Linked DNA regions of Homo sapiens. The protein of the gene in region 5 purifies or fractionates together with the protein of the main gene of each other region. This does not show direct contact. Each region holds a gene or a part of one and is shown on either strand. Other genes may lie near its edges.

Evidence for each region.
Region 1: the proteins of SLCO4C1 (region 5) and PDK1 purify together in Homo sapiens (affinity purification with mass spectrometry; one large-scale study listed by BioGRID and IntAct). This does not show direct contact.
Region 2: the proteins of SLCO4C1 (region 5) and KCNT2 purify together in Homo sapiens (affinity purification with mass spectrometry; one large-scale study listed by BioGRID and IntAct). This does not show direct contact.
Region 3: the proteins of SLCO4C1 (region 5) and ATP12A purify together in Homo sapiens (affinity purification with mass spectrometry; one large-scale study listed by BioGRID and IntAct). This does not show direct contact.
Region 4: the proteins of SLCO4C1 (region 5) and PDXDC1 purify together in Homo sapiens (affinity purification with mass spectrometry; one large-scale study listed by BioGRID and IntAct). This does not show direct contact.
Region 6: the proteins of SLCO4C1 (region 5) and ATP11C purify together in Homo sapiens (affinity purification with mass spectrometry; one large-scale study listed by BioGRID and IntAct). This does not show direct contact.
Region 7: the proteins of SLCO4C1 (region 5) and ADIPOR1 purify together in Homo sapiens (affinity purification with mass spectrometry; one large-scale study listed by BioGRID and IntAct). This does not show direct contact.

The regions. Positions count from the first base shown.
Region 1 is NC_000002.12:172,597,590-172,601,089, forward strand, and holds part of PDK1 ([Pyruvate dehydrogenase (acetyl-transferring)] kinase isozyme 1, mitochondrial isoform 2 precursor), read left to right. Parts: 3' UTR 1-3,500. UniProt on the Homo sapiens protein: Kinase that plays a key role in regulation of glucose and fatty acid metabolism and homeostasis via phosphorylation of the pyruvate dehydrogenase subunits PDHA1 and PDHA2.
Region 2 is NC_000001.11:196,426,941-196,430,440, forward strand, and holds part of KCNT2 (potassium channel subfamily T member 2), read right to left. Parts: intron 2,818-3,500; coding exon 2,637-2,817; intron 1,330-2,636; coding exon 1,165-1,329; intron 1-1,164. UniProt on the Homo sapiens protein: Sodium-activated and chloride-activated potassium channel. Produces rapidly activating outward rectifier K(+) currents. Contributes to regulate neuronal excitability.
Region 3 is NC_000013.11:24,693,908-24,697,407, reverse strand, and holds part of ATP12A (potassium-transporting ATPase alpha chain 2), read right to left. Parts: intron 2,965-3,500; coding exon 2,830-2,964; intron 1-2,829. UniProt on the Homo sapiens protein: The catalytic subunit of a H(+)/K(+) ATPase and/or Na(+)/K(+) ATPase pump which transports K(+) ions in exchange for Na(+) and/or H(+) ions across the apical membrane of epithelial cells.
Region 4 is NC_000016.10:14,978,026-14,981,525, forward strand, and holds part of PDXDC1 (pyridoxal-dependent decarboxylase domain-containing protein 1), read left to right. Parts: intron 1-2,857; exon of another isoform or gene 2,858-2,948; intron 2,949-3,500.
Region 5 is NC_000005.10:102,247,785-102,251,284, reverse strand, and holds part of SLCO4C1 (solute carrier organic anion transporter family member 4C1), read left to right. Parts: intron 1-1,496; coding exon 1,497-1,647; intron 1,648-3,500. UniProt on the Homo sapiens protein: Mediates the transport of organic anions such as steroids (estrone 3-sulfate, chenodeoxycholate, glycocholate) and thyroid hormones (3,3',5-triiodo-L-thyronine (T3), L-thyroxine (T4)), in the kidney.
Region 6 is NC_000023.11:139,800,554-139,804,053, reverse strand, and holds part of ATP11C (phospholipid-transporting ATPase IG), read left to right. Parts: intron 1-1,714; coding exon 1,715-1,818; intron 1,819-3,500. UniProt on the Homo sapiens protein: Catalytic component of a P4-ATPase flippase complex which catalyzes the hydrolysis of ATP coupled to the transport of aminophospholipids, phosphatidylserines (PS) and phosphatidylethanolamines (PE), from the outer to the inner leaflet of the plasma membrane.
Region 7 is NC_000001.11:202,941,313-202,944,812, forward strand, and holds part of ADIPOR1 (adiponectin receptor protein 1), read right to left. Parts: intron 2,634-3,500; coding exon 2,446-2,633; intron 907-2,445; coding exon 713-906; intron 390-712; coding exon 261-389; 3' UTR 1-260. UniProt on the Homo sapiens protein: Receptor for ADIPOQ, an essential hormone secreted by adipocytes that regulates glucose and lipid metabolism. Required for normal glucose and fat homeostasis and for maintaining a normal body weight.

The DNA.
Region 1 (3,500 bases), on a different chromosome or scaffold from region 5:
GTATCATTCTCTTTCTCACTCAGTGTGGCCCAGAGTTGCTCAGAATTGGAGCAGAGCCTGAGACGTATCTGCAGATCCTGTCATCAGCTGGCAAGTCCAGGAGACTGTGTCATTTAGAGACTGTGTTGTTAGTTATCCCTCAACATCTTCTAAGGTGGCAGGAAATAATATTGGAAATAACATTTTAAAGTAAAAATTTTAAAGTTTAAAGAAGAGTTTTGCCACTTAAACAGGGGAGCTTTGTCTGGAAAATACACTGAGTTGAAACACTTCATCCTTGGAAGGATTATATAAGATGAACAGTTGTGATAAATGTGTAGATTAGAGGGATGTGAATGGGCAGTTAGTCCAGTGCCCTCATTTAAGAGGCCAAGATCCTGATTCAGAGGAGGCATCCTTTGCCCAGAGCTGCTTAGCTAATCTGACCAAATGTTGGGAAAAATGTCTCACCTAACCCACTATTCCTTAATTATGGATTTTGTGAAAAACAATAGAACATGTTAATGAGTAATTTATATTAGTTCGATGTATTACAATTTTTTAGCTTTAAATTACAGTTTTCTTATAATGTTGAAATGTTTTAGAATCCTTTGAATCTAAGTATTTGTTTCCTAAATGAAACATTTGTACAACATTTGATGTTTTTACTTATGAAATATTCTCCTCCCCCAAGAAAATTTAAACTTTTTCTCTCTATTTAAAAGCTAAGAAATGTTTTAAAGGAAAAATGAAATTATCTTCCTTTAGCTTATTTTTAAGGTAAAACAGCTTTTTACTCTGTTATTGTGGTAATGGACAGAATATTACATACAAAAATATTCTGGGAGAGCTTTTTCCTAGTTGGTTTTAAATCATTGTGCCACCTGAAAGGTTTTTAGATTTTATAGGAGCTAATTTGTCCACCAGCATTAATGTAACACAGTGTAGTTATGAAAATATATTGAAGGACAGGAAGTGGACACGAAGTGATTTTTGTAACCTGAGCAGTTAATGAATGTGCCAACATTTTCTAGGAAGGGACAGCAAGAATATTCTGCTCTGTAGTTAAAATACTGGCTGGCTTTTGATGTCTTCATGCTTAATTGTGATCACTTTCTTGCACTGTGATGTTTTTACGTGAATATGTTGAAGTAGAAGTCTACCATATTATTTTATAAAATGTTTTCTGTATGGCAATAAACTGAAAACATGGATCAACCCTTCTTTTGAAAATAAACTGAGTCAATTTAGCCTTTTAAAAATATAGTCATCTCTTTTAAATAGAATCCTCTTCCACCATCAAGGCTCAACATTTTGTAAGCATCCAAAAAATTGGTAATTAGGGGGCTTGCACTAAATTTCACTATCTTCAGTAGAGAGGAACTGTTTGGAACTTAGATTTCCAATGTGTATATTCTAATGGAGAAAGCAAGAGGTAGAGTTTGTATGTTTGACTTACCTTAGATTTTTATTTTCCATACATACTGCAAATGATTGACTTGTTGCATAAATGAAGATCTTCTGTTGTGTGCTTTTCAAACACTGTAAATAAATTTGAAATTTGAATAACTTTCCACAGTATAACTGTAAAAAAAAAAAAAAAAAGTCTTAATTTAACCAGCATTACCCTCTGCTTGTACCAATTGAATGGCAGAACTACTATAGTCAAAAATAAATTCCTATCCTATTTTTAATTGATGGGATATAGGCAGCACAATTTCCCTTCATTGTTGAAGCCAACAAGTTCCGTAACAGAACTCCAGAGGTAAATAGCTGGGAAAACTGTTAGTTTTAAGGTCCCACTGTTGCTCTGTGAATGACTAATCAGAGGAAGCCAAAAATCAGCCAACTAATTTCAGTTTATGTCTTTAATTGTGATGTAAGTGTGAAGTTTCTACATATGGGTAATCAGGGTTGAGTTAGGTAGTTTGCAAACATGACTTTTGCTGGAGGAACTTTTAATCATGTCTTATTAATTTCTGGTCCCAATAATTAATTTTCTTACAGTCAAACCCAATGCACTTGAAAAATAATATAATTAATACTGTGTGAAGAATTTTTTGCATGTTAAAAAAAGCAAACCACTAGTTTGCTTAGTTCTGGCATTCATAAACTACTGTACCTTCTGTTCTATTGACATGTTTGGAAAAAAGAATTGAACATATGTACCACCCCCCTCTTTCTAGAGTCTCCACAGTTCTTTAGCAATTGCTAACCATAGGTTTTTAATAGCAAAAGACAAGATTGTCAGTTTTTGGTGCAAAACTCTACTCTTTTTGGTTGACTTGGAAAAGCTGTTGTTTATATTGGGAATTGTGACAGCTGTCTTTTACTTTGTTAAATTAGCAATTATTTAGCAAAAATACAGAGTTTCACCCCAGTAAAATAAACTTCCACGTGAGAGTTGTGTTCATTCAAGGGTTATTTTTTGAGAGTGGAAGTACATTTCCTGCATTTGTCACAGATAATATCAGAAATTTTGTTGTTTTGATTAAAATGTTGCCATCTACTTATAAGTTAAAAATGCTGAGAAGGTTTTTTTTGGAAACAGTTTATGAGGCCAGGACATTTTTAAGTTTGACTCAAATATAAAAAGCCACAGTATTCTTGCCATGGTTTTGTACTTAGATGTCTCTCATTATGGAATTCAGAATGTGACAGTTATAGTACTACATGAAAATACTTAATATAGAGTTCTACAGTTACAGTATTGCATGAAAATACAGTATGGTATGAAATTATTTGTCCAAAACTGTACTCCAGAAATGGAGCCCATATGATTATATAACTATAAAATAGGATGGGACAGAGAAAAATATGTCTGTATTACAGCATAAACATATCTGGTTTAATATGAACTATTTCTTTTCATCTCTTTACTCTCAGTATCTCCATAATGGCCAGTATGTAGTAGGCACCTGTAATTGTGAAGCAGCCTCATTGTCTGGGGTAAATACCAAGGTTCTTGGTCTCATGGCCAAGGAGATCGAGGTCGCAGACACACACAGTTTGGAGCAGGAGTTTAATAGGCAAAAGGAAACAGCTCTGTTACAGAGAGGGGTTCCGAGCAGGTTGCCAAGTTGTAGTAAAAATGTCAGGGTTTTTATAAATGGGCTAGTGAGGAGGGGGCTCATGAGGAGGGGATATCTTATCCTCCTAGGGTCCGAGGACGCTTTAGTTGGGACCAGGTGTGCTATCTGTACAGAGCATAGCTTTTTATCAGCTCTTATCCCATTCCTTGACCACATAGGCTCTTAGACTCTTATTCTATGTTGTCTTCGTCCAGCTTATCTGGAAGGGAGAGTTTCTCTGTCTGTTCCCATACATCTTGCAGCTGCAGGCATCCCCCCGGTCTGCTTTTAGCTTCCTTATCTTAGTGCCCCTAAAGGGAAAGGAATGTGCTTATTAAGGGCCACTGTTTTACTGGGGTTAACTGCATGAGGTCAAAAAGAGCTATATTTGAGCTGCTGTTTGTTAAAAGAAAAGTTTTCTGCCGGGGACTCGCTTTACCCTGTCTACCT
Region 2 (3,500 bases), on a different chromosome or scaffold from region 5:
CTTAGGCCTCCCCAGACATGTTTCCAGTATAGCCTGTGGAATCGTAAGCCAATTAAATCTCTTTTCTTTATACATTATCCTCTCTCAGGTAATTCTTTATAGCAGTGTGAGAGCAGGCTAATACACCATGGGATCAAAATTTTCCCACAAATGGATTTCCTTTATGAGTTATGATAAGTAAGCTTGAAATTAATTAAATATAAATAATTAAAAAAACAAGTATGGAGTTGCTATTAAAAATGCAAGTTAACATATGAAAACAAAAGAATAAGAACCAAATGATTCTGCCATTTAAGATAGAACAAAATGATTCTATCATTTAAGAATCAATTATAAATTAGGTGTTTTAAAACACAAAAATATAGTATTTATAAAGGTCTACAAAATATTCACAAATCAATATTTCTATGTTTTGTAAGGAAAGGATAATTAGAAATACTAAGCATTGTCTTGAAGTCTGGAGTTATTCTACTTCTTGACAAAACTTTGTTGAGTAAATACAAGACCTTCAACAGACTAAGTGCAGTAAGCAGGAAAGGAGATTAATGCCATGGCCCGTAGCAGAAAGTGGAAATATTCAAGAATTTTATCTGCATAGACAGAAAGAAAAGTTTCTTCTTAATTCATATTCTCAATTCAGCTAGTTATTGTCCAATTTTTGGTCATGTATTGCTATACATATAGGATATATTTATACTTCAGGAAACAAAAGAAAAAAATGAAAGTCCCAGACTTCCACATTTCCATTAGCAATCCTTGATAAAATTCTGCAGTATTTTAACTGAGCAGATGATATTGAAATGGTTTCTTTCTTGTTTTATTATATTTTATCTTAAAATTCACTGTTCCATAAAAATATCATTTATGCTCTACCCAAGGGAGAAAAAGCAATCTTTTAATTCAAAGAAAAATTTTCTTGTAGCATTAACATTATTCCATCTGTCTTTCAGCGTAGATACAGAAGGAAACTTAAAATACTGAGTATTCCTCCAGCATTTTTTTTCTATGTTCCTGGTTATATTTGTGGTTCTTCATTTACTCCTTCTATATTTGGTTGTATAAATAAAAATCCTCCACAAAGCAGGCTGCACCATCAGTTAATTGACTTTGACAATATGTTAGTAGGTATGATCCAGTATAGCACATAATATAAGCCAAATGTACCTGGAGCCTAGGATGAGCATAGAATTCATTTAAAAAATCCATAAGTAAATCAATCTTCAGTGAGCTGACACACAGGACGACATGCTTTTCAGTTTGAGCTCTATGTCGACTATAGTTTCCTCCTGACTTTTGTCTCTCCATCCACAAATAAGCCAGCTGTTCAAACTGTAATATATTTTCCACATGTGAATGAAAAACACAGTAAGGAAATAAATAAATCAATGCAATACATCTATTGTTTATTAGGTATTTTCAATTTCCTAGATGGAACTCATTGAGATTCTAATTGTCAGTATTCCCCTTCAACGACAGACTTTTCATATAATTTCTACAGAGGCTGCAAATGTCTCCCAGGGGCTTCGGGTCTCTAAGGAAACATATTAACATGATTTTGCTATCACATAATAACAGGCCACTAAGAGGTTTGTACCTCTGCTTTATGTCCAGTAGAGCTGAGTGAAAGAGAAAAGCCTCATTGCTATTTTCCCACATTCTCTGTCAAATTCTAACCATATCTCATGCAATAGGAGTTACTCTTACCATAACACACAAGGCCACATTCTAGCTGTACAGTAGCCATTAACGGAGGAAAGTGAAAGGTGCAAGGGAGGGTATGTCAGGAAGAAAGACATGCATGAATTTATCGGAGCAGGAAGGCCATTTTTGCAGGTATTCTATTCAGATACATTGCGGCCAAAGTTTTGCAATGGAATATGCAAGTTTGATTTGCATTTCCCTATAGCCTGCTTCTGATCTGCCCACACATGGGCAGCCAGGGCTTATTATAGGAAAGAGTTAGAGATTGCATCTACTTATCTTTAATTCCATTTATATATCCATCCCTTTGCAACCTCCCTACTCACTCCCCAAAGTGCCACATAATATTTACATACCATGTTCAGACTTTTTTTTTTTTTTTTGTAGAGATGGGGTTTTACCTTATAGCCCAAGCTCATCTTCAACTCCTTGGCTCAAGCCATCCACCTGCCTCAGCCTCCCAAAATACTGGTATTATAGGCATGAGCCCTGCACCTGGCCCAGATTTTATTTGACAAACATAAGTAATAGATTTTTCTTCATTGCAGTGTATGACTTTGTGGTTTATTTTGAAGAACCAAGAGAAATCAACCCTTCACAAATTTATTTCTTTGATCTATCATCCTATAATTAAAAACTATGTTATTCTATATTTAATATAATTAAGTACCCTATACTAAAAAAAATCTTGAATGATTGAAATAAGATGAGTGCTGTCAGTCATGACTGGAAGGAAAAAAAAGCAACTCGGTGTTTCTAATAAAATGTAAAATGACATTTCTGCAGTAATTTATGTAATTGATTAAATGTAATGATAGTATGTGTTAGTAAATTAGTGTTAGATAAATAAGCCACTTTCCATTTCTTATTAAATGTGGAGGATTCAATTTCATGTCTCTGTACATTTCTATGCAATATAAGATGGTTTTGTTTACCTGTATGGGTAGAACCACAAGAGCAACACAAATCATAGCAACTACAAAAAGCTTGGAGGACCATGTTTCAGGAGTGACATCCCCGAAGCCCACAGTAGAAAACGTCACAATGCAGAAATAAAGGGAGTCAAAGAGATTCAGCTTCTTTCCTATTCGTTCCAGATGTTGGATCCCACAAATGCTAAAGAAACAAATATGCATTACAATTAAATCTTTCAAACTGGACACATAATTTCTCATCATTATTCTTTTGAAAGCCAAAGCACATTTCATAAAGCCATTTAATAGTCCCTCTTATATTTTACAATATATTTTTCTAGGAAAGATATAATTAGTAAGTTCTTGTCCTACATTGACCAGACATGATCTTATTTTGATTAATAGACAAAAGTGGTAGCTAAAATATCACACAGTATATTTGAGTAACATGCAAAATGAACAGATAATTTCATGGGTGATACACATAGACACTGAATGAACATCAACACAAGAAATCGCTACCTCTAATCCCTACCAAAATACCAAGTCTTTTCTTTTTCTTTTTTTTTATAATTTTTTTGAGACTCTTTTTCTTTTTTTATAATTTAGGAAGAAGAGAAAGACAGTAAAAGGCTTGAGGAGTTAACAATTGCCAAATGCTATGGTTTGAATGCTGTCCCCTCCAAAACTCATGTTAAAATTTAATTGCCATTGTACCACACTAAAAGGTGAGACCATTAAGAGGTGTTTAGGTCATAAGGGCTCCACCAACATGAATGAACTAATGTTGGTATCCTGGGAATGGGCTCCCTCACAAGATCGATCTCTCTCTCTCTCTCTCTCTCTCTCTCTTTCTCTCTCTCTTTCTCTCTCTCTTTCTCTCTC
Region 3 (3,500 bases), on a different chromosome or scaffold from region 5:
CCTTCTTCGATCTCCCAAAGTGCTGTGATTACAGGTGTGAGCCACTGTACCTGGCCAAGATAAGGCTTTTTACATTTAAAACATAGGGATAATATGAAACACTTTTATGGTATGTACCACGTGCCAGGCACTGTTCTAAGTGCTGTCCACATCGACTTATTTATTCTCAAAACAACTTTAAGGCCATGGGTACTATTATTATTCCCTTTTACAAAGGAGGAAACTGAGGCACAGAGGTTCAATGCTTCACTCAGGGTCACTGAGCAATAGGTGGCTATCTGGTGGCTGAGCTGGGATTTGAGCCCAGGCTAGCAGGCTCCAGAGTCCCTGCCCTTAATCATGGTGGCTACAAAGGATAATCTTTTAAATTAAATACATTCATCTTTATATAAAACTTTATAAAACATTTTCCAATTTGCCGTAAACTGTTTCAAATGTCTTAACAGACCAGTGTGTTTGGGGCATCACCATTCTAATCAATAAGACACAGGCTTTCCATTTTATTTCCTTCCCGCAGAGACGTCTCCTTCCAAGGCCATGACATCTAAAGCCCTGGTGAGGCTGAGCACCGCTCATGTGTAGATATAAAATGACCCTAACAGCATCCAGACAGCACCTCCGACCTCTTCAGCAGGAACTCACACAGCCCCTCTCCCCTTTCTTTTTTTTTTTTTTTTTTTTTTTTTTTTGAGACGGAGTCTCGCTCTGTCGCCCAGGCCGGACTGCGGACTGCAGTGGCGCAATCTCGGCTCACTGCAAGCTCCGCTTCCCGGGTTCACGCCATTCTCCTGCCTCAGCCTCCCGAGTAGCTGGGACTACAGGCGCCCGCCACCGCGCCCGGCTAATTTTTTGTATTTTTTTTTTTAGTAGAGACGGGGTTTCACCTTGTTAGCCAGGATGGTCTCGATCTCCTGACCTCATGATCCACCCGCCTCGGCCTCCCAAAGTGCTGGGATTACAGGCGTGAGCCACCGCGCCCGGCCCCCCTCTCCCCTTTCTAGTCCCACTCTGTGTAGCCACTTTCTCCTCCAACTTGTACATGAGGCCTCATGGAACCTGCTTTTTCTCCCTTTTGCAACTGGGCATGCCTTTACCTTGGGAGATGGAGCTTCAGCAGGGCTCCAAGTCCTGCTGCTGATGGAGGCATCATCTAACCCCATCTTCACACTGTGCACTGATGCGCGGCACCTCAACCTCCTCATCCTCTAGCCACCCCACAGTGTTGTCGTGCGAATGAATAATTTAATACTTGTGGAAATTAGCACAGAATAGCTCCTATTATCACTAGTATTATTAGTATAATAATACTCATCCTAAAACAGTCTTTTAGGACTGTTGCGCACTCTATTTTCACTTTGGTTTTACGTAAGAGATGTGGTTTCTTGGCTTGAGTATTTTACATCATATGTTTCTGGTTAGTTGTCTATTTAGCTAACTGTGATTCTCTGTTGGCTCACTATCCACAAAGAAGACATTTGCAACACAAGAGTTCTTCTCTAGGCTGGGCTTGGTGGCTCACGCCTGTAATCCCAGCACTTTGGGAGGCCAAGGCGGATAGATCACCGGAGGTCAGGAGTTCGAGGCCAGCCCAGCCAACAAGGTGAAACCCTGTCTCTACTAAAAATACAAAAAAATTAGCTGGGCAGGGGGTGCATTCCTGTAGTCCCAGCTACTCAGGAGGCTGAGGCAAGAGAATTGCTTATACCTGGGAGGCGGAGGTTGCAGTGAGCCGAGATCGTGCCACTGCATTCCAGCCTGGGTGACAAGAGTGAAACTCCTTCTCAAAAAAAAAAAAAAAAAAAAAAAAGAGTTCTTCCCTAACCCTAAATTCCATCCGAACTAAGACAGGTGGATAATCACCAGAAATCTCCACACGTACAGTTGTGGTTATTCCATTTCTATACTTTACTGTTGTGCAAAGCCCAAGTCCAGATCCAGTGTGGGCTCTGTGGAAAATCCCATCTGCATGGGGACCTGGGGCTCCCAACTGTCATTTGTCTTAACATGGGGAGGCTGTGATGGCTGACTGTCGGCCAGCCCTGCTTGCTGAGATAACCAGGCAAGGAAGGCCGTCTTCTACCTGAGCAGGGGATGGAAAGGAGACCCCCACCCACAGCACAGGGGCTGGCCCCAGAAAACGACGGGGCTGTCACCCCAGGGGCTGCTCACCGGTCTCCCCAAAGGGCAGGGCTTGCTCCCATGGCCTGAACTGTGCCGCACTCCCTCTGTGTGATGGTGGAAGAATCGTGGACCTGGTGTCAGGCTTGGGAACACTGGGTGCTGTGTGACTCTGGTCTCTCAACACTTTCTAAGGGCCTGCTTCCTCCTCTGAGTCAGGATTCGTCAGTCCTACCTCACAGGCCGGATGCGAACATGGAACAAGGCCACGTAGGTCGAGGGCCTGATGCACTAGAGGTGAGAGGAGCAGGTGTTCGGCCTCCCTGCTGCCCACCTGGCATTTATGCTTTGGAGTATGGCTGCTGCTCCTCACGGCAGAAGGTACCTGATAGTGGTGGTGTGAGTGTGTGTGTGTGTGTGTGTGTGTGAGAGAGAGAGAGTGTGTGCCTGTGACAGAGATGGCTCATTCATAGGAGCAGCCAGGCCCTGATGAAGTCCTTGCCTTTCTTTCTTTCTCTGCCCTGCTTCAGGGTTAGGAAGGAGGCCAGCAAGGGAGCTTGACCTAGGGGACCAGATGCCTGGGTGCTGTATCCCTGACGACTGTCTTTGAAGCCAGGTATCCTTCAAAATATGAGGTAAGCAAAGGATGCATGCAAGTAGAAAGGTCATGCTGCCGATGACAGAGATTACCGGTTGTGAGGAAAAACTCACCTGAAATTTATTAGTAGAGTTAAAAGGGATTTCAGCTACTTTGCGGTTTCTTTTTCTAATTTCCATCACATCACCCAAAATGACCTCTGAGAATTTTAAAAGAGCAGTTTCTGAGGCATCTCCAATCACAGCTTTCTGGGAATCAAAGAAGAAAAATATTTGCAGCACATATTTAATGAACCAACATGCCCTCAGCATAGGACCCAAAACACACCCTCCTGATCCCATTACCACCTAGCTGGAGAGACATTATCACGTGATCAGGGAGGGCCGCAAGACCGTGGTAAGCGTGTAAACAACAGTGCCACCTACTGGCATTAGGGATGTTTGGAGAAGCTGGACCTCTGCGAGGACTGAAGATTTCGTGGAAAAAAGCAGCTACGAACTAGATCTTGATAGATAGGTGGGTTACCGATACACAGAGAAGAAAGCCTTCCAGAAACCAGGATGCGGGTGCAGGGGCATGAGGGGCAGGCTCGTCCGTGAGTGTTCAAGGTACAAGCGGATGTGGAGGGTGTGGCAAGACCTGGAGGGCCCTGAAAGGTAGCCTGAGGTCTAGACTTGAGAAGCAGAAAACAGGGAAGTACGGAGAGATTTTGAGCAAAGTTAAGTGACTATAAAAGCACCATTAAGGGAAATTAGTGGCATTCGAGAAAGACCCCAGGAGGGAT
Region 4 (3,500 bases), on a different chromosome or scaffold from region 5:
AGTTCTGTCCCTTGCTTTTTCTGTTATGTAAACGTGCAGACCTGTGATAACAGAGCCATTTTCTCGTCACGATTTGCTTTTCTTCCACAACAGTATCAGTTTTCTTGTATCTGAGATCAGTGATGTCCCAATAAATCAGATGGGTTAATTGAGGAGGCAAAGGAAATTCAAACTTAGGAGAGTAGGAGTAGGGGCTTTGCCCCTGCCCCCCACTGTATGTCCAAGGCATAAGGAACAAGGCCCTGTAGCAGAGTCTCACAGTGTGTACTTATGTTAATATTCAATAAGGAAAATGCCACAGGAAGTAATCACTATAATGATGAAGATTTTAAGTTATTAAACACACCTTCCAGTAAAAACCTGTTATATTATTATTATTTTTGAGACAGGATCTCTCTCTGTCACCCAGGCTGGAGAGCCGTGGTACAATCTCGGCTCACTGCAACGTCCGTCTCCAGGGCTCAAGTGATCCTCGCGCCTCAGCCTCCTGAGTAGCTGGGACTACAGGCACTCACCCCCACACTGAGCTAATTAAAACAATTTTTTTGTTCTCGAGACAAGGTCTCACTATATTGCCCAGGCTGGTCCCAACCTCCTGGGCTGAAGCCATCCTCTTGCCTTAGCCTCCCAAAGTGCTGGGATTATAAGCGTGAGCCACCGTGCCAGGCCAAAACCTGCTACTCTAAACTTGTAGAATAGCCCAGACCTTTTTCTGTTGGTTAAAAGATCTCATTCTTCCTGGGTATTATGTTTAGGCAAGGTATACTGCAGTTTGTTTGCATTTACTTTAATTCTGTCCTTGAGCAAACTTAAAGCAGTTTCTCAGCGTCAGCACTAGTGATATTTTGGGTCAGATAATTTGCTGTTATGGGGGCTGGCCTGTGCATGGCAGCATGCTTAGCAGTGTCCCAGACCTCTGCTCAGTAGATGCTAGTCGCACTCCCTACACCCAGTTGTAACAATAAGAAATGTCTCAAGATGGGGGCAGTTGTCCCCCAAGGGGTAGAGGGAATTGCCTGTCATTGAAAGTCCCTAATTTAGGGAATCTAGAGCTACAGTTCCGGTTTGGTCACCACTAGCCATATTTGGCAGTTTACATTGAGATTAAAATTAAACACAATTTAAAATTCATTTCCTCAGTCATGCTAGCCACATTTCAAGTGCTCAGCAGCCACATGTGGCTGATGTCTGCTACACTGGGCAGCACAGATGTGGAACATTTCCATCGCAAAGAAGGTTCCACTGGACAGTGCTAAGAGCTGGCAATTCGTGTTTTTTTTTTGAGATGGAGTCTCCCTCTGACGCCCAGGCTAGAGTGCAGTGGCACAGTCTCTGCTCACTGCAACCTCTGCTTTCCGGGTTCAAGCGATTCTCCTGCCTCAGCCTCTCAAGTAGCTGGGATTACAGGCACCCACCACCACACCTGGCTAATTTTTGTATTTTTAGTAGGGATGGGATTTCACCATATTGACCAGGCTGGTCTCAAGCTCCTGACCTCAAGTGATCCACCCGCCTCGGCCTCCCAAAGTGCTGGGGTTACAGGCATGAGCTACTGTGCCCAGCCAATTACTTGTTATATCTAATTCTCATCTCTGAAAGAGGCAACTTTGACCCTGTTTCTGACCTAAATCAGCACAACTCAGCCCATTTTTGGTTCTTGAACTCATCCTGAGCTAAGTGTTTCTTTCCTGCTATTTGGGACTGATTTTAGAAAATTCTTTGTCACCTTGCTGTTATGCTAGAGGTTTATAGCAGCATCAATGGAACATTCCTGATCATTACTTACTGATAAGGACTCCGAGAATTTCTATTCCTGCTCCTTCCTTAAAAAGCATGAGAAAAGAACCCCTGTTAGGCAAGGTTGAAATGACCAGTTTCCGTGTATGGCTTTGTAGATCCCACTCTTTTATATAGAATGAGAGGAGATGAGAGGCTGTAATTGTAGCTTTCATATAAAGCCAATTCCAATGTTACAATGTGAGGGTTTTGCATACAGATGCATGGTGGCTATGGCTGTAAATGATTATCTAATACTGGCTGTCAGGGAAAACTGATGGGACTCGGCCATAGTACAAAGTTCCTGATCCTAGATATTTATGGCTTTGTTCATTCTTGATTTATTCAATTTTGCAGGGGAAGTCAGTGGCAGAGCTATTGATGGTCCCATTTCCGTCTTTGCTCCACTATATCTAGGATTATATGAGTTATAGGTAGAAGTTGGTTGAGCTTGATTTCATCTGTTGTCACCTAAAGCAGAAACCTGTTTTGATTTATAATTTTTTTTTTTTGAGACGGAATCTTGCTCTGTCACCCAGGCTGGAGTGCAGTGGTGCGATCTCAGCTCTATGCGACCTCTGCCCCACTGCAACCTCTGCCCCCTGGGTTCAAGCAATTCTCCTGCCTCAGCTTCCCGAGTAGATGGGATTATTTTTGTGCCACGCCCGGCTAATTTTTGTTTTTTTTATTTTTTATTTTTTTGAGATGGAGTCTCGCCCTGTGGCCTAGGCTGGAGTGCAGTGGCACAGTCTCGGCTCACTGCAAGCTCCACCTCCCAGGTTCACGCCATTCTTCTGCCTCAGCTGGGACTACAGGCGCCCACCACCACACCCAGCTAATTTTTTGTATTTTTAGTAGAGATGTGGTTTCACCAAGTGTTAGCCAGGATGGTCTCGATCTCCTGACCTCCACCTCAGCCTCCCAAAGTTCTGGGATTACAGGCATGAGCCACCGCGCCTGGCCAATTTTTGTATTTTTAATAGAGACGGGGTTTCGCCATGTTGGCCAGGCTGGTCTCCAACTCCTGACCTCAAGTAATCTGCCCACCTTGGCCTCCCAAAGTGCTGGGATTACAGATGTAAGCCACTGCACCCGGCCTTGATTTATAATTTTTATTAATCGAAGGTGAGCTGTGGTCAAAGCCCAATGCTGAGTGCTGACAGAGACACAAGGTGAGTAAGATGTGGCCCCTGCAGGAGGTTGCGTTCTGGTAAGGGAGTATACTTTTTTTTGGACAAATCCTTGTATAGAAAGGGATAAAAAGCATAGGAATTAAGAAACAAATTGTGAGTGCAAGGAGCAAGTGACCAGGAAGGATTATGTGAAAGAGATTCTTTAGGCAGAATATTTAGCTCAGAATTATGCTTTTCTAGAGTTTAATTGTAAATATAATGCAAACCTTTACTTTACGAGTGTGCCTCATATTATTGCTGGTAGATAAAAATCAAGAAACAGGAAAAGCATTTCATCTTTACCTTTCCGATTTGATCGCTCCCTAACAATCCCTGAACAAGGTAAATCCTGAATGGTGATAATCATTCAACCTTCATCTCTGCTAAAAGCATTTCTTTTCCTCCCAGGCAAAAACAAACAGTGCCTGCTGTCTAGCACTAGTTAAACTAGTTAAACACTGCCTATAAAGCTTATCTTAAGGAAGAGTTATAACAGTATCTGCTTCTGTTTAGCAGTTTTCTTTTTGTTCCAGAATAAAGGTGTGATTCCAG
Region 5 (3,500 bases):
CAACTCCTAGAATTACTTCTTTAAAACGAACTTTTGACAGTGTCACTTTCCATTCTAAAAATACCTTAACGATTACCTTTTGTCAGGCCCATGTGGCTCTCAATTAAACTGGTCCTTTACTCCTGTCCAGCTACATTTCCCATCACTCTGTGCCTCAGACATCATTCATATTTCTCCACAGAGGATGCTGTTTCTCTACCCTATGCCTTTGTACCAGCTTTTTCTGAAGTACGTTTCCCCTTCCCCATTTGACTGGCTTACTTGTACTCATTCTTTATATATTTTTTACGATTTTTTTTGTATGGAGTCTCACTCTGTTGCCCAGGCTGGAGTGCAGTGGCGCAATCTTGGCTCATTGAAACGTCTGCCTCGTGGGTTCAAGAGATTCTCCTGCCTCAGCCTCCCGAGAACTGGGACTACAGGTGCCTGCCACCATGCCCAGCTAATTTTTGTATTTTTAGTAGAGATGAGTTTCATCATGTTGGCCAGGCTGGTCTCAAATTCCTGACCTCAAGTGATCCACCCGCTTTGGCATCCCAAAGTGCTGGGATTACAGGTGTAAGCCACCGCACCAGCCTCTTACTCATTTTTTAAATCGCATCTCAGGCAGTAGCTCCTCCAGCCCCTTTTCTCTAAACTTTGGCTTGTGTTAGGTGTCCTTCCTTGGTGCTTCTAAAAGGCACTTTGCTGATATCTGTAACCACACTTAGCATATTACTGAATAATTATCTAAGTCCCTCTCTACTTCTAAACTGTGAAATCCTTGAGGGCAGAGACTGTCTTATTCGGCTTTGTATTCCCGTTACCCAGCATAGGGTCTAGCAGTTGCTCAATATATGTTGTTTGAATGAATAAATAAATGAGGTATAAGGGATGCATTTTTGATTAGTGTAACCCTTTATATTAGGGAAGATGTTTTCTCTAAGAGGCAGCTTGCAATGACACTGAGCCTGGGGACTGGGAAAATTATATTTGGTAAGGAAAGAAAAGTAACTTAATCTCCCTGGACCTCAGTTTTCCCATTGATGAGATGATTATGTTCAACAGCATGATTTTGTTCATCCTTCCAAGTTTAAAATATTGTCTGCATCCTGGACATATTTGGCACTGTATGGAGATATTTTGGTTGCTGTAATGAAGGAGAGTGCTACTGGTATCTGGTGGAAGTCAGAGAAGCTGCTAAACATTCTATAGTCCATAGAACCAACCCCACAAGAGAATTACCTGGTGCCAGATGGGAAACTCTTGTCTTCTTCACTTATTCTGCCTTTTATTTTAAATTACTGACAGATACTATACTATATGACTATTGTTTTTATTGCCTCTCTCCGACAAGAAGTTAAACTTTATGTGCAAAGGAAGACGTTTTATTTGTTTAGTAATTATGTGTTGAGTGAGTGAATAAATGACCTAATGGTAAGATATAACAGTGCTTCGAAATTGTTAGTTAAAAGTTATGACAGATCATTTACCCTTCTTTCATTTCTTATTTACAGGACTGGAGAATTGGGAAACTTGATAGCCCCTTGTAATGCCAATTGTAACTGTTCGCGATCATATTATTATCCTGTCTGTGGAGATGGAGTCCAATATTTTTCTCCCTGCTTTGCAGGCTGTTCAAACCCAGTTGCACACAGGAAGCCAAAGGTAGCTTATGTCTCCTACTTTTCCCTTAATGAGGCAATATGTTTGTGGATTATCTTGACTTCTCTAATGGGGTTATGCAATGCCTATTCTTGCCTTCCTGCTCCATTGCCTCCGTTAAGCAGCCCATGATGTCTCCAGCTGAAATAGATTCTTTTTCCTTCATGCCTCTTGCAGTTATTGTTGAAAAATCAATTTGGAAGTTACAAACATTTTAGTAACATCACTTTGTTGCAGTTATGAAATATCTTTTACCTTTTCAAATTGTTTTATAGTCATCCCTCACAATACATGGGGGATGGGTTCCCGGACCCCTGCATATACCCAAATATGCCATACTTAAGTCCTGCCGATGGCCTTGAAGAACTCGCTTTAAGTCAGCACCTCAGTATATATGGGTTTTGCATCCTGCGAATACTGTATTTTTGATCCATGTTTAGCTGAAAAAAAAAATCCGCATGTAAGTGGAGCAGTGCAGTTCAAACCTGTGTTGTTCAAGGGTCAATTTTATTTTTCCCTAACTATTTAAGATCTTTGAAGGCAAGAGAGTTTTCCTATTTTCACTAGGTACAGTTTATATAATAGAAACTTAGTATTTGTTTTATTTGATATACCATGAATACACTTAAAATATTCAAATCAATTTATTTTTAAATACAAATTCATATTTAATTCTGGATCTGAATACTAATCAGTGTGCCTAGATGTTATTTCTTTTCTGTACAGTTAAATAGTTTAAAAGAACTCAGTACAATTTTACTGTACTATATCTTAGAAACTAAATATTTCATCTTAGCTAAACTTAAGAACCTTGGAAATAAATAATATTCAGATTATGAGTAGTACGCAGTATAGTATGCATTGGTAGATAATGTGATAACTTTAAAAGGATCTAAGGGAAATATATACTGTGGTATAAAAGAAAACAATGAATAAGATGTGTAAGAGTTATATGACAATTTTGAATATTTGAATTTTTTTCTGTATATATGACCAATAAATGCTATTGACTAACTTTGATTAGAAGCAGATTATGACAAGGAGTTATTAGGAAGGGTTTTAGTCACATAACTAAATATATATAGACACAAATACCATCCTGCACAAGGGAACAACACAGAAAATCTAATACCCAGAGCATACTTAAAATAGTTTTTGTTATTTCGATATGGTTAATTTAATATTTATATTTTTCACCAAATGCTAAGATAATTACTATCTTACACAGCAAGTTGTCTTCTAGAATTTTTTAGGAAGAGCAAATGATTTTGACTTGCAAATTTTCTATTTGTCCTGACTTTTTTATGTCCAATCAGTCCATGAAATAATCAATTGATCCACAATATTTTTCTTATGAAATATTTCAGATAGGCAATATACATTTATAATACTTTTAATAAGCACCCATATACATTTGTTCACAGCAATACAGTTTTAATCTTATATTTCACACCAGTGACCCAAACTACAAAATCTGACCTTGACTAACTGCTATATTGCAGGCAAATGAGAGTGGTAAAGTTTCATTAGGATAGAAAATACTGTTCTCAGTTTCTCTCCTTAAAATTTTTAAAGGCTGAATTACCTCATTATTTGATATATCTGATTGCTGAATATGTAATAGTCAATTTTGGAGGTGTCATCTGCATATTTGGTTTTCCTGAATTGGTACCAGTGGTCTTAGAATGGCTTTAGCACCAAAAAAAAAAAAAAAAAAAAAAAAGTTTCTGGCCTTTGGAACAATGAAAGCACTGCTTCTCTTTGATTTCTCTGGCTCTGCTCTGATTCGTTGAGGCCTTAATGTCTAAAAAAGATTTATAGTAAGGATAAAGGATATGGAAGGATGGAGTTGAGAT
Region 6 (3,500 bases), on a different chromosome or scaffold from region 5:
TGTAGGAAACCCAACCTGGAGTAATTTGATTGCTATTTAAAAATAATACTTAGGGCTGGGTGCGGTGGCTCACGCCTGTAATCCTAGCACTTTGGGAGGCTGAGGTAGACGGATCATTTGAGTTCAGCAGTTCGAAACCAGCCTGGCCAACATGGTGAAACCCTGTCTCTACTAAAAATACAAAAAAATTAGCCGGGCATAGTGGTGGGCGCCTGTAATTCCAGCTACTCGGGAGGCTGAGGCAATAGAATTGCTTGAGCCCGGGAGATGGAGGTTGCAGTGAGCCAAGATCACGCCACTGCACTCCAGCCTAGGTGACAGGGTGAGTCTCCATCTCAAAAAAAAAAAAAAAAAAAAAAAAAAAAAAAGATAGGGTGTAGTTTGGAAAATGTTTGCTTTATAAGTAAGTTATAAAGCAACATTTTATGTACATATAACAAATTATAACTCATTTATAATTGCAAGTGACTTAAAGTAAATTTGGCCAAATGGGGGTAACTTATTTCCCTCATACACTTTCTGGCACAGTCGGTTTTCTTGGCCATGGTCCAGAGCTCCACAGGGCATGAAGATGTATCCTCTCTATGCTGCCTTTAAGGAGGGTTACTCATGTGGCTCACCTCTGGGTATGTCCTTGGAGGGCTCCTCTGTTTGTTTATTCCATCTGGAGTTGAGGACTACGACTCAGTATGTAAAAAAGAACCTTTACCTGTTGGATGACTAATTCTGTATTTCAAAAGCATGGTAATGACCTGCTTTTAACCTTTTCAAAAACAAAGTTATAATTTAGGGAATGTCAAGATATAAATCAAGAAATCTACATAAAGATTTCCTGATAGTGAAAAAGTTGTTTGGAGTAAGAAAACTTTCAGATAGTTTCTTTTTTCAGTTAAGTTGTTCTGATCAAATCAGCTAAAAGTACAGAGGTTTTCAAAATCAGGAGATAGTTTTAAATATAGTTCAGACATTGCCGTAATATTTCCCCCAAGATGACGACAACAGCTTTCCCTTCTGCCTAAGTGGTGCGCTCTTTGAGTCTGCTTTAACCCTTGTTTGATGATTTATAAGTGGGTTCATTGGCGCCTGCCTTGAGTTCTGGATGAATCAAGTGCATAATATACACTAGTAGAATATTCTAATTATCTGACTAATGCAAGACACGTCATCTCCCTGCCCCTTGTACAAAATGTATCCATATTGAACATTTTCAAGATCATTAATTAAGCTATTTGTGTAATGGAACTATTAATGATTTTTTTCTTGCTGTTGGCAAAATTTTAGCATTTTTGTGACCAAAAAGGTTATGTTCAATTCATATGTGTATATCTCCATTGCCATACACTATAGTGAGCAAAATAATAAGTCTCAGTTCTGTAAATAGGAAAAAAAATAAATGTATTAACTTTTTCACGTGGTTTTAGTTAATTATATGCATGTTGTGAATAGAATTCTCTCAGCTGTCCATGTCAAGAAGAGCTTTTAGGTTTTTAATTGTCTTTGAAACCCTCCTTGCGGCAGGTTATCTTTCTAATTATTTGTAATATATTTTCATAATAATACCATAAAACTTATTAGTGGGAAATGTTAATATTTGTTTATTCTGCCAAAGCCTCTTACTAAAACATAAACTAAATTTGTTTCTGAAATCAGTTGGGTGTATGATTATGAAAAGAAAGTTTTTTTGGTTTTCACTTTTTCTTCTGCTTTCAACTAGACACATTATGCAGTACGTGATACCATTGCACTGTGTACAGCAGAATCCATCGATACCCTCCGAGCAGCAATTGAATGTGAACAGCCTCAACCTGACCTCTACAAGTAAGAATCACCTGGTTTCATTTTACTTCTGTTTGTTGGCTCTGCTTCTCTTTGCTAATAGTATTGCAAAAGAAACACCCACCACTTACCAGCCTACTCTCATTTGTGTTTTTATGGGCGATTCCTTCCTTCTGGCAGAAAAATGAATCAAATCAGCCTTGTTCACTATCAACCCAGAATAAATCATTGTGGGCCCAGGTATCTTATGATTTTTCTTTTATTTTTATTACTTGTAAACATGGCCATATATCAAAATTTTAGATTATGTTACCCTGTAAGGCTGATCTATCAGACTGATGCAGTAACCAGTTAATTAAATAAAAAACAAATCCTTTTACATGCCATCTAACATTAAAGAGAGAAGGGGGATATCCTCTTCATGCAATTAGTAGGTTCTATCCTTTCTTAGAATGATCATGATGCACTAAAGATTGCAAATAGGCTCTTTCTTGTCCACAGTAAACAGTTAAGGGATGAGTACAATGGTGTAATTTCCTCTATTTTACTATACTTAGGCTCTCTGGAGTAGGTTTGCTGATTATTAGTCATTGTGGGTTGTCAAAAATTGGCGTTTGATTTCAAGACTGGTTAGTTGGGTTGATTAGAGCATAGTACTAATCAGGGTAGTGTAACAGGTTTTATCCCCACGTGGGCTAATTAATTTTATCCTATTCTACCGTTGCAGATGGCATCCATTACCCATCTTGTTAATGCATGCTGTTAGTCATAATGAGTGACCAAGTGGTTGGATGTGGTTTACACTAACACCTAGTAGTGGAAAAACAAAGTATTCATTCTACTTCAAGAACAATGACCTCCCTCCTTCTCATCACTTTTTCTTTCCTCTTTCCCTTCCTCTTCCGTATCCACCTTGATGATAGGAACTAGGGCCAAAAAGTGTAACAGTTATTCTCTACCTTCAAGGGACTCACTGTGAGCAAGAGATGAAGTAATAAAGCTAAGCTTATACAAGGTGATAATAGAGGTGAGTGTAAGGTCTATGGAATCACAGAAAAGGGAGTAACTTATTCTGCCTGAGCTAGAGAACAATATCTATACCCTTGCATATTTATAGGGAAATCCCCACATTTTTCAGTTGCTTTAAGTATGAAGGAGAATGATAGGACAGGGAAGGTTATTCCTTATTTCCTTAGACGATTGAATTCCTTGCTGTGTGACTTCGGAATACCTTGTACTTCTATCACTCTAGTGGTAAGCACTTGCGTCGTAATTGCCTATTTACTTTTATAGGGCAAGGAGCCATTTCTTTTTTGCTTATTAGTACATCTTCAGCACTTAGTATAGCACTGGCACAATTAATATATGATGAATGAATGAGCAAGCCTTCATATTTTGTGTATATGAGTAATATATATTTCTATTTTCTGGGGAAAATGCTGTTTACGATGCAGATTATAAAACACTGATGTTAACGAGGGATTAGGTATTTTTACCTTATTTTGCAGAAATACAGGTTACCATACACCTATTATATTAAGTGATTGGGTCAAGCTCAGTATTGAGATCAACTACAAGTCACAGGCTGGACATTTCCAAGATGGCATTCAAGTGTTCACTGTCTAAGACTAGTACTATGGTTTAAAGAGTGGTTTCAGGACCAGCAGCAGCAGCATTACTGGGGAACCTGAATCAGAAGCTCAGGGATGGGACCTAGAAATCTG
Region 7 (3,500 bases), on a different chromosome or scaffold from region 5:
GTCTCTGTGAGGGGCCGGTAGATGCCTTGCTGAGGAGGGGATGGCTAAGTTTGACCATGCCCCATCCCCAGCTAGGAGAATGGAAATGGAAAGTTTATTGCCCAGTGGGTGTGAAAGTGGGCTGAAGCTTGGTTGGTACTGAATTCTCTAAGAGGTTTCTTCTAGAAACAGACAACTCAGACTCTTCCTCTCACTTCAGCAAAGAAGTTATTTTTAAAAGCACTTGGGAAGTTCCTCCTCCACCCCGCAGGTGGGAAGGCTCAGAGAAGGGTGTCATCAGTACAGCCGCCTTCTAGGCCGTAACGGAATTCCTGAAGGTTGGAGACTCCATAGAAGTGGACAAAGGCTGCTGCCACCACCAGGACATGGAAAATCTGATGAGACTGGAACTGTAGGAATAAAAAGAAAAGAGCCTTTAGGATAATGCAAGGAGGAATAAGAAACAAGTAGGAGAAAGCATTTGCTTCTTCTAGTTTATCCTTAATTAAACAAATTTGTTAATAACATTAAAGTGGTATATTTAGAAAGTTTTAAAAACACAGTCCTTGTCAGAGATACACCAAAATGTTAATATTGATGATTTACCTTCAATGCACATATATGTACCTCCAAACACTATATGATCCCAGTCTCATACCACCTTTTCCTCAGCCCTTTAACTTTGGGCTGTTCACTCACCATCACAGGACCTGCTGGAAGATTCATTTCTTACCCATATGTCAAATTTTCCAGGAAAGAAGCGCTCAGGAATTCGAGCAGCATAAAGGCCAGCTCCAGTGATGTACATCACAGCCATGAGGAAGAACCAGCCCATCTGGCCCACTGTGGTGGCCTTGACAAAGCCCTCAGCGATAGTAAAGTGCATGGTGGGCACGACGCCACTCAAGCCAAGTCCCAGGAACACGCCTGAACAGAACAGACATAAGACTGTCAAACAAGGAAACAGCCACCGCATGGAAGGCACTGCTGTCTTACTCTGGAATTTCAATGTTTATGATAATTAGCTATTTTTGGATGAATAGTACATGTTTAGGAAACTTAGCTACAAGATGGATAACACTCAACAGATATTTCTTCTATGTCCTGAATGGGAAGAAGCTGTGTAAGTGCTTACTACCTTTTAAGCACCAAGAACAAAGATCTCATATTCTTCATTATCTGTTAAGGAATTTAGGTAAAAATGGTATGTCAAGACTCTCTGATGGCTAACTTGGGTACAGAACTTAGATGTCAAGGCTTCAGTTGCCTCCCAAGTCAGAGAAGCATAGGATAGGCTTCCTGTTAAGATCATAAAAGTCTTACATAACCAGAACTCTGACCTCCTGAGTAGACAGATATACCCAGATTAGCAGTTATCCTGTAGCTGCTGGGACACACAAGTAAGGCAAGAGCAAGGGAAGAATGGGTATGTGTCTCATCATTACACTACACATAACTGAAGGGCAGGGACCACCTCTCCATCTTTGTAAATACCTTTGTTTAAGCACAGTGCATGGCACGTGGCTGGTGCTTGATAAATATTTAATTATTATTATTTTTTTCTTTTCTTTCTTTCTTTCTTTTTTTTTTTTGAGATAGAGTCTTGCTTTGTTGCCCAGGCTGGAGTGCAGTGGCGTGATCTTGGCTCACTACAACCTCTGCCCCCGACCAGGTTCAAGTGATTCTCCCGCCTCAGCCTCTCAAGTAGCTGGAATTACAGGCACCTGCCACAACGCCGACTAATTTTTATATTTTAAATAAAAACAGGGTTTTACCATGTCGGCCAGGCTGGTCTCAAACTCCTGACTTCAAGTGATCCGCCTGCCTCGGCCCCCCAAAGTGCTGGGATTACAGGCGTGAGCCACTGCTCCCGGACAATATTTAATTATTTTAACTGAAGGTTAAAACATAGCAGATATTAATTGTAAAGGGACTAAAGACTAGTGGTAATTGGTGGTGTTGCTGCAAGTAATAAAAGCTTAAAATAAGAGTCCAGATGAGATGAGACAACACAAAGATGTTTATGCTTGTAGCTATTACTTTGTTACCTGTTTATGCTCAAGGTATTTTCATTCACCAAACCAGGTATTCCATTCCCTTAGTAAAATGCCTCTGAGTGTTTTAATTTTAATCCCTTGGTCTGAGCTTGGGACTCGGGTCACTAAAATTACTGTGCTTGCTACATTTTTAAACTGTCACAAACCAAGTATAAGAGTAGCTACATCTGTGCTTGCAGTTAATTGACCAGCTGGGTAATGATCTGTCCTATTGGCATTCTACTGAAATAGTATGACACTGGGGGTTGAGAACTGAGCTTTGAAATTGATGCTGTTTTGAAAGTTCTGAAACACAAATCAGGGTTTGGGTGGGGTTCTCAAGCTGCAAACCTTAAGGCTCAAATAGGTTTGAGCCTATCAGGCCTAAGGTCTAAATACCTCTGAGGTGTACGTACATCTTCCGACCTACCTGCTCTTGTCTGCCGGTGCTTAGGAGTGGCAAACCGGTCCCACTGCGCCACAATGATGGCAGAAATGCCCAGGACACAGACGATGGAGAGGTAGATGAGCCGTGGCTGTGGGGAGCAGTAGAAGGAATAATAGAGCCAGGGGACAAAGCTCCCCATAATTAGAAGAGCAATCCCTGAATAGTCCAGTCTAAAAAGAACCACAAAAATGAAACAAATCAGTGGGGGAAATGAATTTGTATGGCTCATTTAACTAGCTCTTTCTGTTCTCCACCTGCTCCCAGATTTAACCATTCCCTCAATCTATCCTGTATTGTAGACTCCCATACAATCTATCCTGTATTCTGGATTAAAATTCCACAAGGTCACTTCTATTTTACGATGGAAAAATCTCTAAGAATCCCCATTCAAAGAACTCTATCCCTTTCCCTTACTAGTGAACAGCCGTATCTCCCATAGTAGACACTTGAATTTAGAAATTCCATCACAATCCAGCTGGTTCCCAGCATCACACTCAGGAAAGGCTTTGAAAATTCTCCTATTCTGATAGAATGAGTTCTAAAAACAAAATTCTTAAATTGGGAGTAGTATTAAGGGATACTCTAGCTTTTTCTATCTTAGTTGACTTTTTAAATGAGGAAAATGTACCTTCTTACTGGTGTTGTTAGAAAAAACAAAATAATACACCACTGTCGCCACCAAAACCAACAATAACAACAAAAACAAGCAAACAAATAGAACCTCAGGCTCACGGCTGGGCAAGAGAGAAAGCACACGATGATGGACATCTGGAGCTTCCAGCAATGCATGGGCAGCAAAGATAAGCTTTACTTGACTGCTGGGTAGGAGCACCAGCAGAATGAAGCATAGACTATTTACCACACCCTACTTTGGCTTGGGCTAATAGTAAGTTACGCTTGTACAAGGTCTTGGAAAGCAGCCAGTGCACTGGCACTCTAAGCCTCACAAAAGATAGTGCTTTTCAGGTAGAAAATATATTCCACAATTGGTCTCTCCATCTGTTGAAGAGGATGCAGTAAGTCTGTTCATGAAGTGT